Linked DNA regions of Homo sapiens: all the other regions are reported to be linked to region 4. Evidence: microRNA targets listed by miRTarBase, many of them from high-throughput screens and not tested one by one. Region 4 holds a microRNA gene; each other region holds the end of a gene's coding sequence.

The links. The annotated mature microRNA hsa-miR-939-3p reads CCCUGGGCCUCUGCUCCCCAG and lies in region 4 at 1,239-1,259, shown strand. An mRNA with a match to its seed (bases 2 to 7 or 8) in the 3' UTR can be bound and repressed. Matches are read on the target gene's strand: a 7mer-m8 pairs with bases 2 to 8, a 7mer-A1 pairs with bases 2 to 7 and ends in A, and an 8mer does both.
Region 1: the mRNA of CLPX is a reported target of hsa-miR-939-3p. Seed matches in the 3' UTR shown: 7mer-m8 at 2,011-2,017 and 7mer-A1 at 2,811-2,817.
Region 2: the mRNA of CFAP107 is a reported target of hsa-miR-939-3p. Seed matches in the 3' UTR shown: 7mer-A1 at 3,229-3,235, 7mer-A1 at 2,815-2,821, 7mer-m8 at 2,615-2,621, 8mer at 2,251-2,258, 7mer-A1 at 1,383-1,389 and 7mer-A1 at 1,083-1,089.
Region 3: the mRNA of HIP1 is a reported target of hsa-miR-939-3p. Seed matches in the 3' UTR shown: 7mer-m8 at 2,389-2,395, 7mer-A1 at 3,358-3,364 and 7mer-A1 at 3,518-3,524.
Region 5: the mRNA of UBXN2A is a reported target of hsa-miR-939-3p. Seed matches in the 3' UTR shown: 7mer-m8 at 2,152-2,158 and 8mer at 1,119-1,126.

Annotation. Positions count from the first base shown.
Region 1 is chr15:65,148,297-65,151,296 of GRCh38, reverse strand. CLPX (caseinolytic mitochondrial matrix peptidase chaperone subunit X) reads left to right here. Exons shown (of 14, transcript NM_006660.5): 14 at 384-3,000. The coding sequence ends at 474. Among named protein-coding and RNA genes, the nearest start is that of PDCD7, 16 kb to the right of the region's middle.
Region 2 is chr1:12,759,992-12,764,196 of GRCh38, reverse strand. CFAP107 (cilia and flagella associated protein 107) reads right to left here. Exons shown (of 4, transcript NM_152290.4): 4 at 498-3,427. The coding sequence ends at 3,246. Among named protein-coding and RNA genes, the nearest start is that of PRAMEF12, 12 kb to the left of the region's middle.
Region 3 is chr7:75,535,754-75,539,811 of GRCh38, reverse strand. It overlaps HIP1 (huntingtin interacting protein 1), which reads left to right. Exons shown (of 31, transcript NM_005338.7): 30 at 381-489; 31 at 1,588-4,058. The coding sequence ends at 1,640. Among named protein-coding and RNA genes, the nearest start is that of SPDYE5, 45 kb to the right of the region's middle.
Region 4 is chr8:144,391,215-144,395,419 of GRCh38, reverse strand. It overlaps MIR939 (microRNA 939), which reads left to right and starts at 1,190; the gene lies at 1,190-1,271. It overlaps ADCK5 (aarF domain containing kinase 5), which reads right to left. Exons shown (of 15, transcript NM_174922.5): 6 at 4,146-4,205; 7 at 3,946-4,059; 8 at 3,709-3,840; 9 at 3,554-3,637; 10 at 3,398-3,479; 11 at 3,250-3,328; 12 at 3,075-3,166; 13 at 2,723-2,975; 14 at 2,528-2,644; 15 at 2,178-2,451. The coding sequence ends at 2,346. CPSF1 (cleavage and polyadenylation specific factor 1) reads left to right here. Exons shown (of 38, transcript NM_013291.3): 28 at 65-155; 29 at 238-322; 30 at 397-538; 31 at 624-776; 32 at 865-1,041; 33 at 1,120-1,186; 34 at 1,260-1,307; 35 at 1,382-1,537; 36 at 1,624-1,753; 37 at 1,830-1,968; 38 at 2,055-2,189. The coding sequence ends at 2,102. RefSeq lists a silencer at 1,078-1,239.
Region 5 is chr2:23,998,984-24,003,188 of GRCh38, reverse strand. UBXN2A (UBX domain protein 2A) reads right to left here. Exons shown (of 7, transcript NM_181713.4): 7 at 1-3,517. The coding sequence ends at 3,322. Among named protein-coding and RNA genes, the nearest start is that of MFSD2B, 9.0 kb to the left of the region's middle.

The DNA of each region.
Region 1 (3,000 bases), not on the chromosome of region 4:
TTCGGCTTACTGCAACCTCCACTTCCTGGGTTCAAGCGATTCCCTTGCCTCAGCCTCCTGAGTAGCTGGGACTACAGGTGTGTGCCACCACACCCGGCTAATTTTTGTATTTTTAGTAGAGATGGGGTTTCAACATGTTGGCCAGGCAGGTCTCGAACTCCTGACCTCAAGTGATCAGCCCTCCTCGGCCTTCCAAAATGCTGGGATTACAGATGTGAGCCACTGTGTCCGGCCTAAGCCGTCTTAATATTAAAAGTGCTCCTAATATTTTCTATTATCGTGGCTTTCTTAGCTAGGAGAGGTTACTTTGCTGTTTTGATTTTAAAGATCATGTTTACCTCCATTTTTTATTTTAAAAAAACAAACATGGCTTTTCATTGTAGGGCTCCAACAAAAGAATCCTCTGAAGAGGAGTATGACTCTGGAGTTGAAGAAGAAGGATGGCCCCGCCAAGCAGATGCTGCAAACAGCTAAACTGTCATATTGCTGTCTTGTATATACAGCTTTTCCTTCTTTTGTTTAGGATCATAATTGTCTCTACAGTCTGATATTAAAGGCATTGGATCTATCTTGGATATCATACATGGTCAGAGAAGCCTTTAGGAGAAGAATCAGATCATGTATATAATTGTAACATCACATTGATTTTACGGAAGATGTTATATGGACTTTAATGACACAATGTTTAGAGATAAAATGTACATTATTTTGGTTCAGTTTTTTAAAAAAAATATGCTTTAACAAAATTCTTAGGAATTCTTTTAAGCAATGCAGGTATTGCGATAACTGTAGATTTTACAATAATGTTACTCTACAAATGGGAAAATAAATTCTTTAAAATTGAATATTGAGATACCATTCTTTAGTGTTACCTTTTTTACCCACATGTGTTTCTGAAAATATTGGAATTTTATTCATCTTAAAAATTGGACCAGGTAGGCCGGGCGTGGTGGCTCACGCCTGTAATCCCAGCACTTTGGGAGGCCAAGGCGGGTGGATCACGAGGTCAGGAGTTCAAGACCAGCCTGGCCAAGATGGTGAAACCCCATCTCTACTAAAAATATGAAAAATTAGCTGGGTGCCGTGGCAGGTGCCTGTAATCCCAGCTACTCGGGAGGCTGAGGCAGGAGAATCGCTTGAACTCGGAGGGCAGAGTTTACAGTGAGCTGAGGTTGTGCCACTGCACTCCAGCCTGGGCGACAAAGTGAGACTCCGTCTCAGGGCGAAAACAAAAAATTGGACCAGGTAGTTTTCAAGTAGTTAAACATTTCATTGAAAAATACCCTGAAGAACTATATTTTGATAATTGGTTTAGCTGTATTCCTAGTCTTATCTGCTAATGCATGACACTAACTTCCCAATTGGTTCTGTAAAAAAGGCCATTTTCTTACCAAGTTGTCTGATTTATTTACCATCTTTTTTTTTTTTTTTTTTTTAATTGAGCGGAGTCTCACGCTGTCCCAAGCTGAAGTGCAGTGGTGCGATCTTGGCTCACTGCAACCTCCGCCTCCCAGGTTCAAGCAATTTTCCTGCCTCAGCCTTCCAAGTAGCTGGGATTATAGGCACGCACCACCACACCTGGCTAATTTTTGTATTTTTAGTAGAGACAGGGTTTCACCCTGTTGGCCAGGCTAGTCTGTAACTCCTGACCTTGTGATCTGCTGGCCTCAGCCTCCCAAAGTGCTGGGATTGCAGGCGTAAGCCACCACACCCGGCCTTATTTACCATCTTTAATCCATTTTAGTACTATGGGTGAGTACATGGAATTGAAGTCTGGCTTAAATCTTCAGAAAGTTATATATCTATTTTATTTTATTTTTTTGAGACAGAGTCTCGCTGTGTCACCCAGGCTGGAGTACAGTGCCACAATCTTGGCTCACTGCAACCTCTGAGTCCCAGGTTCAAGCGATACTCATGCCTCAGCCTCCTGAGTAGCTGGGACTACAGGCGTGCACCACCACACCTGGCTAATTTTTTGTATTTTTAGTAGAGACGGGGTTTCGCCATGTTGCCCAGGCTGGTCTCTCCTGAGCTCAGGCAATCGGCCACCTTGGCCTCTGAAAGTGCTAGAATTACGGGCATGAGCCACCGCATCCAGCCAGAAAGATACATATCTAATTCTAGAAATAGCATGCAGTATCAGTCATAGTAACAGCCATGTGCTGACCTAAATAAAATTTCTTGATATTGTGTATTTAACCTGAAGTATTGAGCTAGTTTTTTTGTTTTGTTTTTTGGTGCTGAACATTTTGGTCTAATTCTTTGGCTTCTTAGAACATTTTAAAAAATCTATGTTTTGCTATCAGCCAAAGTAAATGTGTTCACACTAACATATAAGTTACTAACCTTCATTATACAGCAAAGCTAAAAAGTGGTGGGATATTTGGGGTCTTAATGAAAATTGTATCATTTAATTCCATAAATATTAAAATATTTGGGTACCTTTTAAGCTTTTTTTCTTTCCTTCTATAATGGTGGTACAAGTTCTATATTCATTCAGTTTAATCTCATTTGAAATTGTTTAAATCAGAGTACATGTAAATATTTGTGGGTTTTTTTTTTTGGTTTATAGACTCGAGCTTTCCTTTTACACAGTTTTTTTTAGGGAAAAACTAAAGCTATTAGGAAATTCTAAATCTTGTTGATGAAGAGTTGGGCTTTCTTTGATATAATTAATAAAAGGGATGTATGGTATTTATGGCTGGGTAGGACCAGAAATGCACTTTGTATTACAGAGTGTTAAGGCTGGTTGCTATAGTATGGAACAGAAACACCTCTCCTTGGTCTCCCTAGTAATGGTTCAAGTTCTTCCCAGGAAGTCTTACATATTATAACTTTGTTCATTATCTTTCCCTTATAGCATCATTTTCCTTTTTGTAGAGTGGAAATCAGACTAGCTGCTAAACATATTAAGGTTAATCCTCCAGAAATGTACTGGGGAGGCATTTTAGTCACAACAACTTACATTTGGCTTTGGAAGTTGTTAACAAAGCATAGTCG
Region 2 (4,205 bases), not on the chromosome of region 4:
CCCTGCCCCTGCCCCTTGACCATCCCAGCTGCCTGGAAAGGACCAGATTCATTGGGGGTGGGGGGAGGGGTCAGTGACTGAGCAGGTGTCAAGTGCACAGAACTCTTCTCTCCTCGTCCCTTCTAGAATGTCCATATCCTCATTCTGGAATCTGTGACTATGTTAGTTAAGATTCAGAAGGAATTTTATAGGTGTGATTAAATTAAGGATCTTGAGAAAGGGGTTATCTTGGCTTATCCAGGGAGCGCAGTGTGGTCACAAGGATCCTTGTAAGGGGAGACAGAGAGGAAGGAAGGCTACACTGCTGGCTCTCGACAAGCTGATGGCGCCATAAGATGGGAGCGGTGATGTGCCCTAGAAGCTGGAAAAGACAAGGGAACAATTTGCCCCAGACCCTCTAGAAGCAACGCAGCCCTGGGGACCACTGTAGACTCTTACCCATAAGAGAACTGCAAGAGGATAAATGTGTGTTGTTTTAAAGCACTGAGCTTGTGATATTCTGAATAAATGTGCATTTATTCACATTTATAATAAGAACTGTCAAATAAACATGTGTTGCTTTAGGGCACTGAGTTTGTGGTATTTTGTTCCAGCAGCAATAGGAGACCAATGCATGGTCTTTCTGGACTTTTAAGGAATTTGCTCAGCTTCTTCCCAAGTCAGAGACTTCAAACGTGTTGCCCCCATGGCCCAAGCCACCCTCTCTTCCCTCCCAACCTGTCCCTTCAGCTGGGTAATCTCCCTCAGCTTTCTGGCCTTGACCTACCTGATTCTCCCTGGCCCTACCTAGGCAGGCCAGGTCTTCATTCATCATCCGTCAACCCCTGCCCGTTGCTCTCATGACATCCTTTACTTTCGCACAAGCTTGTCCAACCCTCCGCCTGCAGGCTGAATGTGGCCCAACATAAATTTGTAAACTTACTTAAAACATTATGGGGTTTTTTTACGCGATTTTTTTTTTAGCTCATCAGCTACCGTTAGTGTAAGTTTGTTGTTGTTGTTGTTGTTTTTGGGATGGAGTCTCACTCTGTCACCAAGGCTGGAGTGCAGTGGTACCATCTGGTCTCACTGAAACCTCCGCCTCCTGGGTTCAAGCGATTCTGCTGCCTCAGCCTCTGGAGTAGCTGGGATTCCAGGCATGAACCACTATGCCAGCTCATTTTTGTATTTTTAATAGAGACAGTGTTTCACTGTGCTAGACAGGCTAGTCACAAACTCCTGACCTCAGGTGATCCGCCCATATAGGCCTCCCAAAGTGCTGGAATTACAGGCATGAGCCACTGCGCCCAGCCCCTGTTCATTTTTTTATGTGTGGCCCAAGACAATTCTTCTTCCAATGTAGCCCAGGGAAGCCAAAAGATTAGACGCCCCTGCTTAGCATATCCTGGGTCTCCCTCACTCCTCGCAATCCATCGCTGTCCCCCAGGGCCTCCAGCTGCAGCACCTCTCTGTCCTGCAGCCATTTACCTCATGCTCCTCCCTGACTGCTGGACTGAGGCTCTGTGAGGTCAGGGCCTGGCCCAGACATGGCTCAATGGATGCTCAATAGAAAGGCTGGATGTTGGAGGTGTGAGGACAGCCAGCTCCACTCCATCCCACAGCTGTCTCCTGCAGCAACCTTTCTGCACCCCCTGGCTCCTCCTCCTGTCATTCATTCATTCAACTCATTTGTTCAACTCCTGTCATCCACTCATCCAACAAACATAGAGGACTTAGCCTGTGTCAGGCTCTGACTTTCAGTTGGGATGGAAGACAGCGTCCTTACATGGACACTTGGATGACTAAGGAAGGAACTTAGTAGGTGCCAAAGTGACCCTAAGGTAGGTGCAACCTTTCTGCACCCCCTGGCTCCTCCTCCTGTCATTCATTCATTCAACTCATTTGTTCAACTCCTGTCATTCACTCATCCAACAAACATAGAGGACTTAGCCTGTGTCAGGCTCTGACTTTCAGTTGGGATGGAAGACAGCGTCCTTACATGGACACTTGGATGACTAAGGAAGGAACTTAGTAGGTGCCAAAGTGACCCTAAGGTAGGTGGCCTGAGGCCAGCAGGTATCCTGTGAAAACAATGGCAGAGACTCAGGCTCCCATACTGGGAGTCATATTATTGGTGTGCAGTACAAAATCACTGACAAAACACACCTGTGCCCATGAGCCAAGCATGCAAAGGGCCAAAGGTGTCTGCTGGAATTTCTTCAAAGAGGCAGCTCTGTGCGAGCACTGAGCATGCACACTTGTGGACCCCTGTCCTGGGCGAGGACCATGCCTGAGTTCTTCTGCTAGGAGATCCACCCTCTCTCCCAAATCACTCACCAGAGGTTCTCCCCTCTGCCCAGGCTCATAAAGATTTGAGAGCTCAGCCAGGTGCGGTGGCTCACGCCTGCTAATCCCAGCACTTTGGGAGGCCGAGGCAGGCGGATCACGAGGTCAGGAGTTCGAGACCAGCCTGGCCAACATTGTGAAACCCTGTCTCTACTAAAAATACAAAAATTAGCCAGGCGTAGTGGTGCGCACCTGTAGTCCCAGCTACTCAGGAGGCTGAGGCAAAAGAATCGCTTGAACCCTGGAGGCAGAGGTTGCAGTGAGCTGAGATCGTGCCACGGCACTCCAGCCTGGGCAAGAGAGCGACACTCCGTCTCAAAAAAAAAAACAAAAAAAAAAACACAAAGATTTGCGAGCTCAGAGACAAAGGAAATGCCATGTGTTTTCCCCTTCTTCTGAGCCCCGTGGGGCCAGAGCACGCCTTCCTCTGCCTTGGCAATGACAGACAAGCTGGGGTCCTTCCCCATTGCCAGCTCTGCAGCACTGCCCTCCTGGGAACCACATTCAGTCATTCTGTGGAGTTTTCATGATGGGTTTCATCATCAGATTCATTTCCTCCATGGGAGTAGACTCTTCAGCAAGTCACATTACCTCTCCGGGCCTCAGTTTCCCCTCTTGTGAAACAACAGGGTAGAACTTAAGGGCCCTTCCTGTTTTCTCTGACAGTCTGAATCTGTCTTGTGCACGTACATAGCCCTGCAATAGTGTCAAAGATCTTTAATTGTTGGATGGAAAAGAAAGGAACCTGTGGGTTTTGAGGGGGGACAGGTACCGCCAAATGCAGATGATGATTCTGAGAGCACCTTTGACGGGCCAGATCTCGTACTCTGAGTTTATCTGCGCCACTTGTTGTCTGGCAAGTCCAGTGATGCTGTGGTCTCCAGCTGATTCTATCTGAGCTGCTCCTGGGGTGGCAGCTCTCAGAAGTGTGGGAGAGGATGCAGGCGATGGGGAGGGACCGGGACCGCATGCTCCCTCCAGGACATAGCGCACAACGGTGGTCTGGGGTAGGATGAAGTATAAGTGCTCTGCTTCAGGCCAGCCTTGGGTGTGAGCTGTCTCTGCTTGAGCTGCTCATAGAGTCCATAGTTTGTAGGGGGAGCTGCAAGAGAAACCAGGGTCCAGTTGAATGGGGCTTACAGAAGGAGTCTTGCTCTAAATGGCCAATGGCCACGAGACTGGGCAGCAGGGGCCCTGGAGATTTTCCCAGGCTGCTCTGTCAGGGACCAAGGCTGGCAGAGGCCCACAGGGAAGAGCCTTGCAGAGAGCATTGGTTCAGCCAGCCCCTGGCGGTCTCAAGGTGCACCTGCATCCCAAGTGCTCAGGGGAGATCAGGCTCTGCCACGGGGGCCTTGGAAAAGTCAGCCCCATGGTGTGGTTGTGCGTGGCCTCGCTGGTCCTGAGTAATTGTCCCACCCCTGTCGGGAAGGAAGCTGTGTGCACTGAGAGTGATGTTGAGAAGAATCCCATGCAAAAGTAATGCAGAGTGACCAGCAGCTCATCCTCTGACCTGTGTCCCTTTGCATCAAAAGGTAGGACCACAAAGAGCTGGCACTGCTCTGTGTCCTCACTAGTGTGGACGTGGCTTGAAATGTAAATCACATCAAGGCACTCTCCTACAAAAGTGCATTCCAAGTCTTGGGATTGTGGATAGGACAAATTTCATTCCCTTCACTGTGCCCTATGAACCCCTACATGATCCTCCTCCATTCCTGCCTTAGAACTTTTTCATTTACTGTTCCTTCCTCTGGAATGTCCTCCCCCTCAATCCCTGTATGGCTCCCTTCTTCCCAATTCAACTCTATCTCCTCAACAAAGACCACCCCTCACTTTTCCAAGGAGGAATTTGTGAACCAAAGGAGGTTCACAAATTCACCACC
Region 3 (4,058 bases), not on the chromosome of region 4:
TCCAGTAGAAGATCACAGTGAGTAAAGCATAAGAGCTACTGGGATAGATAAATGAATGGGAGAATGGAAAAATTAGAGCAAAGAAGAGAATTGAAATTGAGGGCCAGATAAAGTATGGAAACGGTGAATAATATGGAAGAAGAGGAATTCACAATGCAGCAGAAAGGGAGTAATCAAAATAAGATAGATGTAGGCTGGGCATGGTGTTTCATGCCTGTAATCTCAGCACTTTGGGAGGCCAAGACAGGAGGATCTCTTGAGGCCAGGAGTTCACTACCAGCCTGGGCAGCAGAACAAGACCCCATCTCTATAAAAAAATAAATAAAAATTAAATCTCTGAGAGATGATTAAGAGAAAATCCCACTTAATTTCCCTTACAGGTTAGGGTGCTAGAGCTAGAAAATGAATTGCAGAAGGAGCGTCAAAAACTGGGAGAGCTTCGGAAAAAGCACTACGAGCTTGCTGGTGTTGCTGAGGGCTGGGAAGAAGGTAAGCTGACTCCAAGGATGGGCACTAACCCGCAGCAGGGAGGGGAAGCTGTGTGGCCAGGGCCTTCCCCTAGAATGGAACAGAACAAGGAACCCACCAGATCGGTGGCTTCTTCCTTCTCTTCTCTCCTCATGGAACCTGTTTTCTCTTCCGTTGTAAATAACCTTTAAGCCTAACTTTGGGTGAAGTTATGGTGATTTGAAAGCTTTTGTTGTCACCTTTTAAGACCTAAACATTGATCATAACTCACTCACTGCCATTCCCTCCCAGGCCCAGCTAGCCTTGCCAACTCCCTGGGAATTTAGTTTCTGGCCAGCAGAGAGTTGAAAAATGAATAAATAGTGGTCAGTCGAGATCTGGCAGACAGGGACAAGTGAATTACAAGGTTCTGTCTATCTAGAGCCAGTGAAGGGCAACAATTGCCAAAAGACAGAAGGGATCAGGTGCTAGGCCGGGCGTGGTGGCTCACGCCTATAATCCCAGCACTTTGGGAGGCCGAGGCGGGCGGATCACGAGGTCAGGAGATCGAGACCATCCTGGCTAACACGGTGAAACCCCGTCTCTACTAAAAATACAAAAAATTAGCCTGGCGTGGTGGTGGGCGCCTGTAGTCCCAGCTACTCAGGAGGCTGAGGCAGGAGAATGGCGTGAACCCGGGAGGCGGAGCTTGCAGTGAGCCGAGATCGCGCCACTGCACTCCAGCCTGGGCAACAGAGCGAGACTCCATCTCAAAAAAAAAAAAAAAAAAAAAAGAAGGGATCAGGTGCTGAGAAATGGAGTGGCATGGAGTCACATTCAGGCTGCCAGCCCAGAGACTTGCCATCCATCACCTCGAGTCTATATGTTGTTGTCTGCATGTCGAAAGCAGTCAACTTGATCACAGCCAAGACTGTTCACTCTTAGTGGACTTGACTGACTCTGGGCACCAACCATAGACAGATCCTAGTCATTCCTAGACACGAAACTTGGGGACTATGTGATTACACCATGGTTATAATTATAATGTATTTTTGAGCCCCCATGGTGGCAGGTTTTGTTGGTTAAGTGAATGAATGCATTCATGAGTGCTTTGCAACATAAATTATCATTGTCTTTTAGGAACAGAGGCATCTCCACCTACACTGCAAGAAGTGGTAACCGAAAAAGAATAGAGCCAAACCAACACCCCATATGTCAGTGTAAATCCTTGTTACCTATCTCGTGTGTGTTATTTCCCCAGCCACAGGCCAAATCCTTGGAGTCCCAGGGGCAGCCACACCACTGCCATTACCCAGTGCCGAGGACATGCATGACACTTCCAAAGACTCCCTCCATAGCGACACCCTTTCTGTTTGGACCCATGGTCATCTCTGTTCTTTTCCCGCCTCCCTAGTTAGCATCCAGGCTGGCCAGTGCTGCCCATGAGCAAGCCTAGGTACGAAGAGGGGTGGTGGGGGGCAGGGCCACTCAACAGAGAGGACCAACATCCAGTCCTGCTGACTATTTGACCCCCACAACAATGGGTATCCTTAATAGAGGAGCTGCTTGTTGTTTGTTGACAGCTTGGAAAGGGAAGATCTTATGCCTTTTCTTTTCTGTTTTCTTCTCAGTCTTTTCAGTTTCATCATTTGCACAAACTTGTGAGCATCAGAGGGCTGATGGATTCCAAACCAGGACACTACCCTGAGATCTGCACAGTCAGAAGGACGGCAGGAGTGTCCTGGCTGTGAATGCCAAAGCCATTCTCCCCCTCTTTGGGCAGTGCCATGGATTTCCACTGCTTCTTATGGTGGTTGGTTGGGTTTTTTGGTTTTGTTTTTTTTTTTAAGTTTCACTCACATAGCCAACTCTCCCAAAGGGCACACCCCTGGGGCTGAGTCTCCAGGGCCCCCCAACTGTGGTAGCTCCAGCGATGGTGCTGCCCAGGCCTCTCGGTGCTCCATCTCCGCCTCCACACTGACCAAGTGCTGGCCCACCCAGTCCATGCTCCAGGGTCAGGCGGAGCTGCTGAGTGACAGCTTTCCTCAAAAAGCAGAAGGAGAGTGAGTGCCTTTCCCTCCTAAAGCTGAATCCCGGCGGAAAGCCTCTGTCCGCCTTTACAAGGGAGAAGACAACAGAAAGAGGGACAAGAGGGTTCACACAGCCCAGTTCCCGTGACGAGGCTCAAAAACTTGATCACATGCTTGAATGGAGCTGGTGAGATCAACAACACTACTTCCCTGCCGGAATGAACTGTCCGTGAATGGTCTCTGTCAAGCGGGCCGTCTCCCTTGGCCCAGAGACGGAGTGTGGGAGTGATTCCCAACTCCTTTCTGCAGACGTCTGCCTTGGCATCCTCTTGAATAGGAAGATCGTTCCACCTTCTACGCAATTGACAAACCCGGAAGATCAGATGCAATTGCTCCCATCAGGGAAGAACCCTATACTTGGTTTGCTACCCTTAGTATTTATTACTAACCTCCCTTAAGCAGCAACAGCCTACAAAGAGATGCTTGGAGCAATCAGAACTTCAGGTGTGACTCTAGCAAGGCTCATCTTTCTGCCCGGCTACATCAGCCTTCAAGAATCAGAAGAAAGGCCAAGGTGCTGGACTGTTACTGACTTGGATCCCAAAGCAAGGAGATCATTTGGAGCTCTTGGGTCAGAGAAAATGAGAAAGGACAGAGCCAGCGGCTCCAACTCCTTTCAGCCACATGCCCCAGGCTCTCGCTGCCCTGTGGACAGGATGAGGACAGAGGGCACATGAACAGCTTGCCAGGGATGGGCAGCCCAACAGCACTTTTCCTCTTCTAGATGGACCCCAGCATTTAAGTGACCTTCTGATCTTGGAAAAACAGCGTCTTCCTTCTTTATCTATAGCAACTCATTGGTGGTAGCCATCAAGCACTTCCCAGGATCTGCTCCAACAGAATATTGCTAGGTTTTGCTACATGACGGGTTGTGAGACTTCTGTTTGATCACTGTGAACCAACCCCCATCTCCCTAGCCCACCCCCCTCCCCAACTCCCTCTCTGTGCATTTTCTAAGTGGGACATTCAAAAAACTCTCTCCCAGGACCTCGGATGACCATACTCAGACGTGTGACCTCCATACTGGGCTAAGGAAGTATCAGCACTAGAAATTGGGCAGTCTTAATGTTGAATGCTGCTTTCTGCTTAGTATTTTTTTGATTCAAGGCTCAGAAGGAATGGTGCGTGGCTTCCCTGTCCCAGTTGTGGCAACTAAACCAATCGGTGTGTTCTTGATGCGGGTCAACATTTCCAAAAGTGGCTAGTCCTCACTTCTAGATCTCAGCCATTCTAACTCATATGTTCCCAATTACCAAGGGGTGGCCGGGCACAGTGGCTCACGCCTGTAATCCCAGCACTTTGAGAGGCTGAGGTGGTAGGATCACCTGAGGTCAGGAGTTCAAGACCAGCCTGTCCAACATGGTGAAACCCCCATCTCTACTAAAAATACCAAAAATTAGCCGAGCGTAGTGACGGGTGCCCGTAATCCCAGCTACTCAGGAGGCTGAGACAGGAGAATCACCTGAACCCCAGAGGCAGAGGTTGCAGTGAGCTGAGATCACGCCATTGTACTCCAGCCTG
Region 4 (4,205 bases):
CACCCCACCAGGGACCTTCTGGGCCTGGCCGGGCCACTGGTGTGTGACCCTCACTAACCCACAGGTGTATGCTGTGGCCACCAGCACCAACACGCCGTGTGCCCGCATCCCACGCATGACTGGCGAGGAGAAGGAGTTTGAGACCATCGAGAGAGGTGGTGACGCCCACACCATACTCCCATCCTCAGCCGCATCTTGGGGAAGCCCTACTCTGACTGTCACCCTTGGTCCCCACAGATGAGCGGTACATCCACCCCCAGCAGGAGGCCTTCTCCATCCAGCTCATCTCCCCGGTCAGCTGGGAGGCTATTCCCAATGCCAGGTGAGGCTGGGCCGGCGGGGGTGGGGTCTGCCCAAGGCCTCCAGGCAGCATCCTGAGGCCCCTGGCCCCCACAGGATCGAGCTGCAGGAGTGGGAGCATGTGACCTGCATGAAGACAGTGTCTCTGCGCAGTGAGGAGACCGTGTCGGGCCTCAAAGGCTACGTGGCCGCCGGGACCTGCCTCATGCAGGGGGAGGAGGTCACGTGCCGAGGGCGGGTAAGGGGCCAGTGAGCGGGGGCGGGAACTGGCAGCCCCTCTGCCATCCCCACAGCCATCCCACAGCCATACCCATGCCCTCCAGATCTTGATCATGGATGTGATTGAGGTGGTGCCCGAGCCTGGCCAGCCCTTGACCAAGAACAAGTTCAAAGTCCTTTACGAGAAGGAGCAGAAGGGGCCCGTGACCGCCCTGTGCCACTGCAATGGCCACCTGGTGTCGGCCATCGGCCAGAAGGTGTGCCAGTCCCACCCGGCGTGTGTCCCCCGGCTCACCCTCACCCGGCTCCCCGTCCGCGCCCGCTCACCCTCGCCCTCGCCCCCAGATTTTCCTGTGGAGCCTGCGGGCCAGCGAGCTGACGGGCATGGCCTTCATCGACACGCAGCTCTACATACACCAGATGATCAGCGTCAAGAACTTCATCCTGGCAGCCGACGTCATGAAGAGCATTTCGCTGCTGCGCTACCAGGAGGAAAGCAAGACGCTGAGCCTGGTGTCGCGGGTACACCTGTGGCGGCGGTGCTCGTGTCTGGGTGGGTACCCGCCCAAGGCACCTCTGACGCCCCCTTCCCGCCCCCAGGATGCCAAGCCCCTGGAGGTGTACAGCGTGGACTTCATGGTGGACAATGCCCAGCTGGGTTTTCTGGGTATGTGGGCAGGGCCCTGGGGAGCTGAGGCTCTGGGGGTGGCCGGGGCTGACCCTGGGCCTCTGCTCCCCAGTGTCTGACCGCGACCGCAACCTCATGGTGTACATGTACCTGCCCGAAGGTGAGTGCTTCCTCCACCCCCTCTGCCTGGGCCGGGGCTGGGCTAGCAGTGACCCCTAGGCCTTTCTGGTCTAGCCAAGGAGAGTTTCGGGGGCATGCGCCTGCTGCGTCGGGCAGACTTCCACGTGGGTGCCCACGTGAACACGTTCTGGAGGACCCCGTGCCGGGGGGCCACTGAAGGGCTCAGCAAAAAGTCGGTCGTGTGGGAGAATAAGCACATCACGTGGTTTGGTGAGTGTGGGGGAGCAGGTGTGTCTGGGTGGGGGGCCCTAGGGTTGGCCTGGCTCACACCAAAACCCTCACCCTACCCCTGCCAGCCACCCTGGACGGCGGCATCGGGCTGCTGCTGCCCATGCAGGAGAAGACCTACCGGCGGCTGCTGATGCTGCAGAACGCGCTGACCACCATGCTGCCACACCACGCCGGCCTCAACCCCCGCGCCTTCCGGTGAGCCCCGGCCCCGCCCCCGTGCAGCACCCCCTCCACCCCAGCCTGCCCTGACACCTGTGCCTGTACGCCCCAGGATGCTGCACGTGGACCGCCGCACCCTCCAGAATGCCGTGCGCAACGTGCTGGATGGGGAGCTGCTCAACCGCTACCTGTACCTGAGCACCATGGAGCGCAGCGAGCTAGCCAAGAAGATCGGCACCACACCAGACATAGTGAGTGCGCGCCCCGCCCCCCGCGCGCCCCGCCCCTCCGTGTGCATCCCCACCCACCCACCCACCCACCCTTCCATCCCCTGCAGATCCTGGACGACTTGCTGGAGACGGACCGCGTCACCGCCCACTTCTAGCCCCGTGGATGCCGTCACCACCAGCACACGGAACTACCTCCCACCCCCTTTTTGTACAAAACACAAGGAAAAACATTTTTTGCTTGAGAGGAGTGTGTGGTCATTACACGGCCTCCTGGCCCAGCTGCTGTCACAGCCCCCCAGTGCGAGTGCCCACGGGGCTCGGGGTGTCTACACCTCTAGCCCCGCCACCTCCGTCAGCCCAAGGTGAAAAGGGCCCCGCCGGCCCTGGGCGGCTGCACCCTAGGTCTCCAGGTACTGGTAGAGCTCCTCCGCTGGGGGCACGAGGCTCAGGTGGACCAGAGCACGAGCCAGGAGGGCGGTCAGCCGCATGGCCAAGGTCTCCAGCCTGCGTGGGTCAGGTCACAGGTCACAGGTGGGTGGGGAGCAGGCCCCCGCCACCCACCTGCCCCGCGGCCACTCACCTGAGCGCCACTTCAAACTTGAGCATCTCCCAGACGACCTTGGCGTGGCGCAGGAGGCTGGTGCCGTAGACACCCCGATACGTGGCGCCCGCCAGGCGGCTCCAGCCCCGGACAGCCCTGCACACACCCGCGTTAGCGCCGCGTCAGCCCCACACCAGCCCCACCACGGCCCGGGCGCCTCCTCGGGCCACCGACCTTTTAGCCATAAGGAAGTAGCGGTCCACGGGGGCGCCGAGGGCCACGTTGATAGCGCGCACGGTGTTGATGTTGCGCAGCACCAGCAGCATGGGCCGCGGCAGCTCCCTGAGCACCGCCATGACGGCCTCGAAGCGCTCGCGGGCCATGTCCACCATGTAGGCCGCCTCTTCGCGGCTCAGTAGGTGCGAGCCCCACAGCTGCCCCAGGCGCACGGGGCGCTGCATGAGCATCTCGGCGAACAGGAGGTAGTCTGGGGAGGGAGGGAGGGAGGGAGGGAGGGGGCTCTGAGTGGGTTCCGCGCCGCCCGACTCCCTTCTGTGGTGCCCCAGCCATCCCCGCACGCCCTCACCTTGCACCCCCAGTGCGGCTGCGTGCGCCCTCATGGCGGCGTCGTCCCGCAGGATGATGGCCCGCCACAGCTGGCAGAGGGCTGCGCGGTCCCTGGGTGTGGATGGGCCCGCAGCCATGAGCTCCCTGCGGCAGGAGAGGCTTGCCCTGCCCCACGCCCACCCACCCGCGCTCACTTCTCCTCCAGGAACTGGTAGAGCCCGTGGTCCAGCAGCACCAGCTCCGCTTTCCCGTCCGGGCCTTTCCGCACCAGAACTAGGGATACAGCCTCTTAGGTCGCGCTGCGCCCACCCTGAGACCCCCACCCCTGGGGTAAATTCCTACCGTTGCCAGGATGTGGGTCCGAGTGGATGAAGCCGGTGTAAAATATCTGCTCAGCAAAGGCCTTGATGAGCTTTTCTGCTATCTGGGGAGAGGAGAGGCATTGCAGTGGACACAGCACCAGCCCGCCCTGACCCGCCCCCGCCCCCCCGCACTCACGTCATGCACTGCCAGCCCCTGGCTCCTGATGGCCTCCACATCGTTGACCTTGCAGCCGGCGCAGAAGTCGGCAGTGAGCACGCGCTGGGGAGAGCAAGAGGCTGGGCTCAGCAGGCCCAGCGCTGTGCCCACCCCAAGGGCCTGGCCCAGCCCACCTTGCTGGACTTGTCCCAGTGCACGCGGGGCACCACGACGTAGGGGAAGTGCGCCAGCTCCCGCGCACAGCGCTCTGCGTTGCGGCCCTCATTCTCGAAGTCCAGCTCCTGGGCCAGGGTCCCCTTCAGGTCCTGGGGGCCAGATGGCGGTTGAAGACCAGCTCTGCCTACCAGCTGCTCCTACCAGCTCTGCCTACGTGTTTGCTCCTGCTGGCCGGGGAAGGGGTGGGGCTGTACCTGGAGGACCCAGCTGAAGCCAAAGCTGGGGTGCATGACCTCAACGAGCCGCAGCAGGAGCTCCAGGGTGTGGATGTCCCCATCAAAGCGGTCCCGCAGGTCGATGTACTGCACCTGCACTGGGCGAGGGTGTGGTGAGAACTTGGGGCCCCACTGTGCCCCGCCCCAGCCCACTGCTGAACAAGGCAGCCCCCATATACCTTCACAGCCACGCTGGTGCCATCGTGCAGCTTGGCTCTGTGCACCTGTGCCAGGCTGGC
Region 5 (4,205 bases), not on the chromosome of region 4:
AAGAAAGGTACTTCCACCACATACTTAAGAATCACGTGAGATTAAAAATGCAGAGATCTGAGACCCATCACAGATACAGTGAATCAGAATCTTTGTGGTAGGTGGCAGGAATGGCATTTTTGAAAAGCTGCCCCAAATGATTCTGAAACTAAGGCTTCAGAATCATTGTGAACCATCACTTTATATAGATTGGTTCTCAAAGTGTGCCTGAGGGATCCCTGGAGATTCCCAAGACCCATTCAGGGCACTGTGAAGTCAAAACGTTTTTCATAATCATACTAAGGCATTATTTGCTTCTTTTCATTCTTTCACCAGTATACAGAGGTGTTTTCCAGAGTCTACATGATATGTGACTGCACAACAGACTGAATGTAGAAGACATGAGAACCCATCTATCTTCTTTATGACAGAAAGTAATTCCCCCCAAAAAACCGGCCACTTTTCTCACTAAATCGTTTCATGTTTTATAAGTTATTATTGGCTGGGCACAGTGGCTCACGCCTATAATCCTAGCACTTTGGGAGGCCAAGGCGGGCGGATCACCTGAGGTTACGAGTTAGAGGCCAGCCAGGCCAACATGGCGAAACCCCGTCTCTACTAAAAATACAAAAATTAGCCAGGCGTGGTAGTGGGCGCCTATAATCCCAGCTACTCGGGAGGCTGTGGCAGAAGAATCGCTTGAACCCGGGGGGACAAGTTGCAGTGAGCCAAGATCGCGCCATTGCACTCTAGTCTGGGGGAAAGAGCAAAACTCTATCTCAAAAAAAAAAAAGTTATTATTATTACGGCAGGGTCTTACTCTGTTGCCTAAGCTAGAGTGCAGTGGCGCAATCTCGGCTCACTGCAACCTCTGCCTCCTGAGTTCAAGCAATTCTCCTCCCTCAGCCTCCCTAGTAGCTGAGATTACAGGCATGTGCCACCACACCAGGCTAATTTTTGTATTTTTAGTACAGACATGGTTTCACCACATTGACCAGGCTGGTCTCGAACTCCTGACCTCAGGTGATCTGCCCGCTTTAGTGTCCCAAAGTGCTGGGATTACAGGTGTGAGCTACTGCACTAATTTTTGTAATTTTTATAGATAGAGTTTTGCCTTGTTGCCCAGGCTGGTCTCAAACTCCTGGGCTCAAGTGATCCACCTGTCTTGGCCTCCCAAAGTGCTAGGATTACAGGCGTGAGACACCATGTCCAGCCAGAAGTTATTTTTAAATGAATAATTTTTTTTTTTTGAGAAAGAGTCTCGCTCCGTCACCAGGCTGGAGTGCAGGGGCGCAATCTCGGCTCACTGAAACCTCCACCTCCCGGGTTCAAGCCATTCTCCTCCCTCAGCCTCCCACGTAGCTGGGACTACAGGCGCATGCCACCACACCCAGCTAATTTTTTTTGTATTTTTAGTAGAGACGGGGATTCACCATGTTGGACAGGATGGTCTCAATCACTTGACCTTGTGATCCGCCTGCCTCAGCCTCCCAAAGTGCTGGGATTACAGGCGTAAGCCACCGTGCCTGGCCCATAAATAAATATTTTAAAAATTTAATATTTAATATAATAATATATATAGCTCACATAAACAAATGGTCTTGAGATAAAAATGTTTGAGAGTTGCTGTTTCATAGCAGGCATCTCGCACCCTATGAACATTACTGCTGCTATGGACCACTTAGTTCCTTGGCACACTCAATGCATGCTTCATTTTAAATCTGATTCAATAGATCATTTGCAAAAAAAAATGTTAAACTTATTTTCAGGTATGGGGATTTAATCTGACAGTGAAAAATTGAGGTCTAACTGGATTTAGTTAAAGTCTGAGATATAAAGCCTGTTTTTCTTCGTGATATCAAAATGAAATAATCTTTAAATGTATTCACAAGTTGACTCTGATGTATGAAACAGAAAACCAGCTGGGCACGGTGGTTCACACTTGTAATCCCAGCACTTCAGGAGGCCTAGGCAGGCAGATCCCCTGAGGTCGGGAGTTCGAGACCAGCCTGACCAACATGGTGAAATCCCGTGTCTACTAAAAATGCAAAATTAGCCAAGCATGGTGGCGCATGCCTGTAATCCCAGCTACTTGGGAGGCTGAGCAGGAGAATCTCTTGAACCCGGGAGGTGGAGGTTGTGGTGAGCTGAGATTGCGCCACTGCACTCCAGCCTGGGCAACAAGAGCGAAACTCCATCTCAAACAAACGAAAAAGAAACAGAAAACCATACTTTATATGATGCATTTAAAAAATACTAGTAATGTGACACACACCGGCATTATATTCTAAGTGAGTGGTGGCAAATGAATGGCTAATCCCAAATGTTAGCCAAAAACAAATCCATAATTTTTGAAAGAAAATAAAATGGAAAGGGAATAGGCTTTTTAGAAAGATAATTTTCTTTTATTACATTTTTATAAAGTGTAGAAATGTGAGTAGGCAGATTAATCTTGATACTATACTGAGCTACACAATTTTATTCTTTTATTTTTTAAATTAAAAAAATATATAGACAGGGGTCTCACTCTGTTGATCATTCTGGTTTTAAACTCCTGGCTTCAAGTGATCCTCCCATCTCAGCCTCCCAAAGTGCTGGGATTACAGGCATGAGCCATTGCACCCGGCCACAATTATTTATATTTATTTTACTTTATTTTATTTATTTTTGAGAGGGGGTCTTGCTCTGTCGCCAAGCTGGAGTACAGTTGCTCAATCTCAGCTCACTGCAACCTACACTTGCCAGGTTCAAGAGATTCTCCTGCCTCAGCCTCCCGAGTAGCTGGGACTACAGTTGCGCACCGCCACGCCCAGCTAATTTTTGTATTTTTACTAGAGATGGGGTTTCACCATGTTTGCCAGGATGGTCTCAATCTGTTGACCTCGTGATCTGCCTGTCTCGGCCTCCCGAAGTTCTGGGATTACAGGCATGAACCACTGTACCCGGTCGTATTAGCTATTTAAAAACTCAGACAGCTAACATTTAAATAAATCCCTGCTGTCTGGGAATGATGTCTGAATGAATATTGTGAATACATATGCTAATTTATACCATATTAAGATTCTAAACAATACAGCTATTTAATATATCTTGATAACTGGTATTTGAAAATAAGTCTATTTTTCTGGGTAGTCTTTTGGAGAAAGTGCACTGAATATAGTTTCCAGTCATATGCTACTTTCTTAACTTGTACTTATCTAAACATCTTCTCATCAGGAGAGAGTTCAATAGTACTCGAACCAAAAGTCTAGTGAGTCTGACTTCTCCAATCCCCAATTTTGGTTTGCATGTCCACTTACAACCATCATTTCTCTGCAAATTTTCCACTTAGTCTATCAAAAATCAGTGCTCTGAAAGTTCTCTAAAAGATGCAGTTTTTTGGAGTCTCTGAATGATGACAGCATTCTGTAAATCTGCTTCTTCCAGTGTGAGTGTCTCATCTAGCAACCTGAGGACAGGAAGAGCTGTTGCCAGGGAAAACGGAGGACTTCTTTGAGATCCTTGGTATTTTTCAATGAAGTCTTTGATATGGCTTACTCTGTAAAACAGCAAAAACTATTAATATAATTTTAGGAAAATTTGAATTACCTAATTTATAGTAACAACAACTGGTAAAAGTATCTGGATATGTTATTATTAGAGATAGCGTCTTGCTTTGTCACCCAGGATGCAGTGCAGTGGTGCCATCATAATAACTCCTGGGCTCAACTGATCCTCCTGCCTCAGCCTCCCAAAGTGCTGAGATCACAGGCATGAGCCACAACACCCAGACTCTGGATATGTTAATATATAGAATAACTGAATTTATGATATAACTGATTATTTGGGCTATCTTTTAAAGTTTGACTCCCAGAAATTTGATGACAATACTACTACTACTGTTAATTATCTTAGGTAAGATAATTAGTACTATGAATTACTACTGTTAATTATCTTAGGTAAGACAAAGGAATTATGGCTATGTTTTACAGAGGCTGTCACAATTGTATCATGATCGTCATGTAGCCATGGATTATAGAATGCATCCTCATTTCACAGATGCTAAAATGTGAAAAAATGTGCAACTCAGAATTAATGAAATATGCCTATCACTAAAGAAAGAATTCTCTCATTCAATCAATTCACTAAAATTCACTACGTGCCACTTTATTAAACCTGTAAGGGCTACCAAAAAAGTCTAAGACCCAGTCCTGTGTATTCATTTGGGTACCAAAAATTGGATAACT